2 separate regions of the Homo sapiens genome follow, and region 2 is linked to region 1. Evidence: fine-mapped expression QTL. A gene starts in region 1. The other region holds a variant in brackets. All regions are shown on one strand. Distances are between the middles of the regions. Region 1 holds the start of NIPSNAP3A (nipsnap homolog 3A). Region 2 overlaps LOC107987105 (a long non-coding RNA gene).

Region 1 (2,913 bases):
AAATAGTTGATCAAAGGTACACATTTTTACAATTTTGGGCAGTATTAATATACAGTAGGGAACCTACAGTGAGAGAGGGAGAGAGATGTGGACAGGTGGTGCCAGAGAAGGAAGACTGCAGGGGAGCCGGGTATGGTGGGGGAGCCGGATGGGAGTTAAGAATTTTGTTGCAGGGATGACTTTTAGCTGCTAGGGCAGAAATCATGAGTCGTCCATCCTCCCTTATCTCCAAGTTAGGGATCATTCCCACCAGCAACGACCTCCACTTCACTTAAAAGAGAACAACTGATGGACATTTCTAAAAACTTAAAGTTTGGAATCATGCCATAAGGACGTCATTCCTGGCCCTGCCCCACTGGAGAATCATTAGGGTAAAAACTGCATTGTTAACCCGGGGTGAATGGACATGAGCTGCTCTTCTTTAGTGCTCCTCAGTCTGTCTCTAGGACAGGTTAATCCCCTTCCCATCCTGCCCCTTCAGAAAGGAGTAAAGTCCTAAACATCAAAAGGAAAAGAAATTTCTAGGTTGAAGCCACAGAATAGGCCACTCCCGAAAGTTAGGGCAGAATCACAAGCTCCATTTTGTCCATTTCTCATCTAAGGTTAAAAGAGTCTGTCTGTCATCGTCCGGTTTGATAGGAGGCTCCGGTCCCGCCTGGTTGGGGGAGCGACCACACGAAGCGCGGGTGGCGGGCAGGGTCCAGCCCCACCGGGACCCTGGGCCTCCTCTTCAAGGGTCTCCGCGAAATGCTCGGAAGTTGTGTGCTTCATTTAAAAGGGGGAGGCCGGTTCCGTGGCAAGCGGCTGGTTGACAATTCCCTCCTTCAACCTGATGTCTAGAGAGGGCGGTGGCTTGGAAAGCTACGACTCCACCCGCGGCTCCACAGCGCCAGGTGACAACATGGGAGCGCTCGCTGGGCCGCAGCCGCGACATAGCTGGGCAGCAAAAACGAAACAGCCGGCGCCATGGGAGTGTCCCGGTGGGTGTGGCATCCAGGCTAGAAAAGCCTTCTGACCACCACTGCCCGCGAGACGACCCCGGCTGGGGGTATTCCCCTAGCAGCGGCCTCCTCCTCACGCGCGTTCCGGGTACCCCTGTCTTGGGGTTCCGGGGCTCACGCTAGAACCTCACCGGGGCCCCAGGTCTGGGCGCGCGTGGCGGAGAGCGCATGCGCATTGCTCGCACGTACCCGGAACACTCCCCGCCCCGCCCCTCCCCTCCCGTCGGGTGAAGGCTTGGGTACCCCCGTGGCCGGTACCTGAGGCGCCAGCGTCCGTGAGGCCAGCGCCCGAGTCAGGGCGCTTCTGAGGACGAGCATGGCGCGGCTTCGGCGCTGAGAAAAGCAGCCAGCCGTGTCCTTTCTGAGACTCCTCTGAAGGTTTCCCGAGTGGAAAGGAGCGGCTCCTGGATCATTGGCAGACGCAGGCTGGGGCGGGGCTCGGCGGGGTCAGCTCCACCCCGGCGCGGGAGGCGCGGCGGGTCCCGTAGCTTGGTGTCTTTCTCTGCTGTGCTGAGCGTTGGTTCCCCCTTGGTTTCCTGAAACGTTCTTACCCCAAACGTTAGAGGTGACGTTAGGATTAACTGAAGGCTCGGATCGTTCCTGCTTCAACTTTCTGGGCCCTCACTCACCTCATTCGCTCCAGTGCTCAGTTGTGTAGATTGGTAAATGTGCAGGGGTTGTGGGTGTGTTGACCATGGGGAAAGAAGGAGAGGTGTTGAGTGCGTGCATGTGCAGTGCTTTGTATTTAAAATCGTGGAGGTTTTTTCCGAGTTAAGTTTTAGATGTTGTGATAGACGTGTATTTGAGCCTGACCTCTCTGCAATGAATGTGTTCTCCATCTTAGAAGGCTCCTAATTAAGATTTAGATTAAATTTTCCACGAGCTCAGAGAAATGGCAGCATCGAGCCTGAAATGAAAAAGTCAAAGTTAAACATACCCTGGTCTAGTCCTCCCAGTCCGGGAGTGTTGGTTCCCAGAGTAACCACCTTCAACATTTCAAGCTGTTTCATTTAATGCTTGTTTCTGTATTTTTAAGTAAGTAGTGTTTTCTGCTGTTTATTGCATTTTCAGTTATGGATAGTATGTGTTGACTTCCTTCTGTGGCAGATGAGGATTTATGTCTCATAGATGCCACTGCCCCCAAATTCACTTGTCTTCCTGCATCTAATAATGCTTATGTTAATTTACAGTAATTAATTACACTATTAATTTACAGTAATCTATATTAATGTTTACATTATTCTTGCTAATAATTACATTATTGTAAACATTAATGTAATATTGCTTACATCATGAGGACTAGGGAGGGATTGCAGGGCCATGACCTGGGTTGTATTGGTTGTGCCTTGTGGAAGAGCTTTGGAATTGTCTGTTCAAAGGAAGGGAGACTTTTTAAAATTAGTTATTTCGGAAGGGTTGCCTCAGTTTTTCTAGAAGAGAGACATCTATTTGTAACCATGCAAGACTAAAAAAATCATTTGTATCAGGACTGGATCTATATGAGTAAATTATTTTCTTAGACCTTTTTTTTTAAACCCTGTAATTGCCAATCCATTTACTTATTCAACAGATATTTACTAAATTCCTTCCATGTTCCAGGCACTTTTCCAGAAACTGGGGTACAGAATTGAGCAAAATTCAAAGTCCCGTCCTCTTGGAACATCCAGGATGGAGGAAACAGATAAAAAAAGGAAGAGTAAATATATCAGGGATTGTCAAATAATATAAAGAAAAATAAAGTAAGATACGAATAAAGGTGCTAGTGGAATTCTAAAAGTGGTCAGGATTCTAGCTATTGACTTGGATATTTAGGATTTAGGTTTCTTCATACCACTCCCTCAAAATACACTTTCCTTCCTGCGTTTATTGATGTTTACATTAAAAATATATTTTGGAGTGAGAAAAACATGTT
Region 2 (2,913 bases), 24 kb after region 1:
ACCGGGGTGGATAGGGAAGGACCATCAGGTGGGTGCAGGGCGAGGCGTATTTGAGCTCAGACTCTCCTTGGGTGGGTCTTGCTGCAGCTGCTGTGGGGGCTGGGGGTGATTTCCAGGTCACTGGAGTTGGGTACCTAGGAGGATTATGGCTGCCTCTGCTGAGTCATACAGGTTGTCAGGAAAGTGGGTAAGGCTGTCAGTCACAGGTGTCACCCAGCTCCCACGCAAACTGAAGGGCTACTCTCACTCCCACCTTGCCCCAGCCACCCTCAACAGCCCCGAGTCTGTGTCCAGGCAGAGGGTGAGACAGGCTTGAAAACTTGTCCGAGGCTATCTGCGTCCCAGCTGCAAGAGAAAAGGGCTTTAGTCCTTCCTCTGCCTGTGAAGTCTGCACACCTGATTCGCGCCCTCTGCGTTCTGACCAGGAGGCTTCTCGCCCCATTCAAATTGTTACAAAGGTCAGATATAGAATTCCTTGTCCCTGTGGAATTTTACCCCTGCTTCTCTGTCTACCCTCCTGATGGATCCCTGTGGTGCCAGGCAGGAATGGGCTGCTTGGGGACCCAGTGAACTCCTAGGGCCTTTCTGCTGCTTCCTCTACCTCTGTATTTCACTCGGCTCTCTGAGGTCAGCTCCAGGTAAACTTCCAGAAGTCAGAAACTTCTCCTGCAAACAAACCTTCACCTTCTCCAGTGGGGATGTGTGTTTGGGAGAGGAGGGTCTCCCTTTCCCATTTCTGCAGTTGGGGTACTCACAGTATTTGGGGTGTCTCCTGGGTCCTGCAGGAGCAGTCTGCTTCCTTCAGAGCATCTGTGGGTCCTCTCAGGATTGCTGGTTTGTTCTTGCAGTTGATCTGGAGCTAAAATTCACAATGTAAGCTTCTGCACGCTGCTCTGTCTGGAGCTGCAATCTAGTCTTGCCTCCCGTCTGCCATGATGCCCCTCATGTTAAAATTAGCTTTTCATATAAAGATAATTTATTGACTCATGAACTAAAAAGAATGTGAAAATGACTTTAGACACAGCTGAATCGAGGAGTTAACAGCATCAGACACCCTCTCTCTCCTTCTGAACTCCCCTTTGCATCTCAGTTAGGCTCTCTGCTCATACTGCCAAAGATTGGCTCCAGGCTCACAATTCTCCAGTTAAGCAACCCTAGTGGAAAGAGTGCCTTTTTCCCCCGCCCTACTGGGACAGCATTCTTGGGTTGAGTTTGATTAGCCTGACTTGGCTCAGTTGCTACCCTGAATGAGCCACTGTAGCGAGATGAATTTGCTTTTTTATTTGCTAGGCTTTTGTTTAGCATCTACCACTATATCCAGAAGATTGAGTTAGTCCCATGCAGACCACATGGACTCAGAGGAATAGACTGTTGTTATATATATATAAAAAAAAGATATATTATTTTACCAGAAGAGGTGATGCTGTACAACAAAGCAACAGATGTTCTATTCAAAATGACGGATAAAGGAGACCAAGAAGACAGAAGAAAGATAAAGGAAGTAGATGAAGAAGGGAAGAGGAGGAAGGTCAAGAAAGAGGAGGACATGGAGAAGAGGGAGAGAAAAGTGAGTAAGAAAGAGAAAGAGATAAAGAGTAGAGAAGAGTGAGATTTATCTTGATGAAAAACCTTATCCCTATATGGGATCAGTGAGCA[C/T]AGATACCTACAGCTTGAAACTCTGCACACAAGACATTATTCAGAAGGTGTACATGAGCATTCTGTGATGAGAAGAATGGGAATCCCAAAGTTGTCTTTACAAACATACACACTCTCTTGATACCAGATTCTGTGACTTTATCTGTGAATACAAAACACCTGATCTGATCCCTTGTTGAGAACGTCACATGCCTCAAGGCCTTTCATATTTTCCATAGATGCACGTGTCTGCTGAGGATTTTCTTCACAGCTTCTTTTATCTCCTTATTCCTCAGGCTGTAGATGATGGGGTTCATTGGGGTGATCACTTCATAAGACAATCCAATGATTTCATCAGATGCTGTTGTGAACTTTGATTTGGGCTTCATGTGCATGAAAAGAACTGAACCATAGAATAAGATGACCACAGTCAAGTGCGCTGAACAGGTAAAAAAGGCTTTCTTTCTTCCCTCAGCAGAATTAATTCTCAAGATGGAAGAGAGAATAAACACATAGGAGATAAAAATTAAGAGGAATCACCAATAAAACAATACTTGACACTGTCATTATAAACACATTTATGGAGATATCTGAGCATATGACTTTAAGAAGAGCCAGGATCTCACAGGTAAGATGATCAATGATATTATTCCCACAGAAAGGCAACATCATTGTCAGAACTGTTCGCAATAGGGAGGTCAGACAGCCTATGATCCAGGACCATGCAGCCATTTGCACATACAGCACTCTGTTCATGATGATGGAGTACCTCAGTGGGTTGCAGATGGCCACATAGCGGTCATAGGCCATCACAGCCAGGAGGATACACTCAATGGAGCCCAAGCCAAGGGACACAACCATCTGCAGAGCACAGCCAATGAAGGAGATGGATTTTCTCTCAGATACAAATATAATAAGCATTGGAGGAATGGATGATGATGTGTAACAGATGCCCAAGAATGAGAGGTTTCCAAGAAAGAAATACATGGGGGTATGGAGGCGAGAATCCAAGATGGTGATGATAATGAGGAAGCTATTTCCCAGGAGGATTATCATGTACATGATGAGGCAGAGCAGGAACAGAAAAAGCTGGAGCTCTGGATATTGGGAAAGCCCCACCAGAAAGAATTCAGTCACGGCAGAGTGATTTGTTGTCTCCATGTGTTCATGTCATCTGCAGAGTTTAGAAAAGAACATGAGACAGGAAAATTTGAATTTTTGATGTAGAGTTATCAAATAACTTTCATATTCATCATTTTGTTTTATTCTTAGAACAGG

The links. PIP is the estimated chance that this variant, and not a neighbour inherited with it, causes the effect.
Region 2: its variant is fine-mapped to the expression of NIPSNAP3A in whole blood (TOPMed, PIP above 0.99).

Annotation. Positions count from the first base shown.
Region 1 is chr9:104,746,199-104,749,111 of GRCh38, reverse strand. It overlaps NIPSNAP3A (nipsnap homolog 3A), which reads right to left and starts at 1,429. Exons shown (of 6, transcript NM_015469.3): 1 at 1,260-1,429. The coding sequence starts at 1,319. LOC107987105 (a long non-coding RNA gene) reads left to right here and starts at 1,473. Exons shown (of 5, transcript XR_007061705.1): 1 at 1,473-1,663. RefSeq lists an enhancer at 866-1,025 and a silencer at 1,446-1,535.
Region 2 is chr9:104,722,218-104,725,130 of GRCh38, reverse strand. The region is part of intron 1 of LOC107987105 (a long non-coding RNA gene); the gene reads left to right. It also overlaps the pseudogene OR13D3P. Among named protein-coding and RNA genes, the nearest start is that of NIPSNAP3A, 24 kb to the left of the region's middle. RefSeq lists an enhancer at 1-1,071. The variant C/T (reference allele first, on the strand shown) is at 1,657.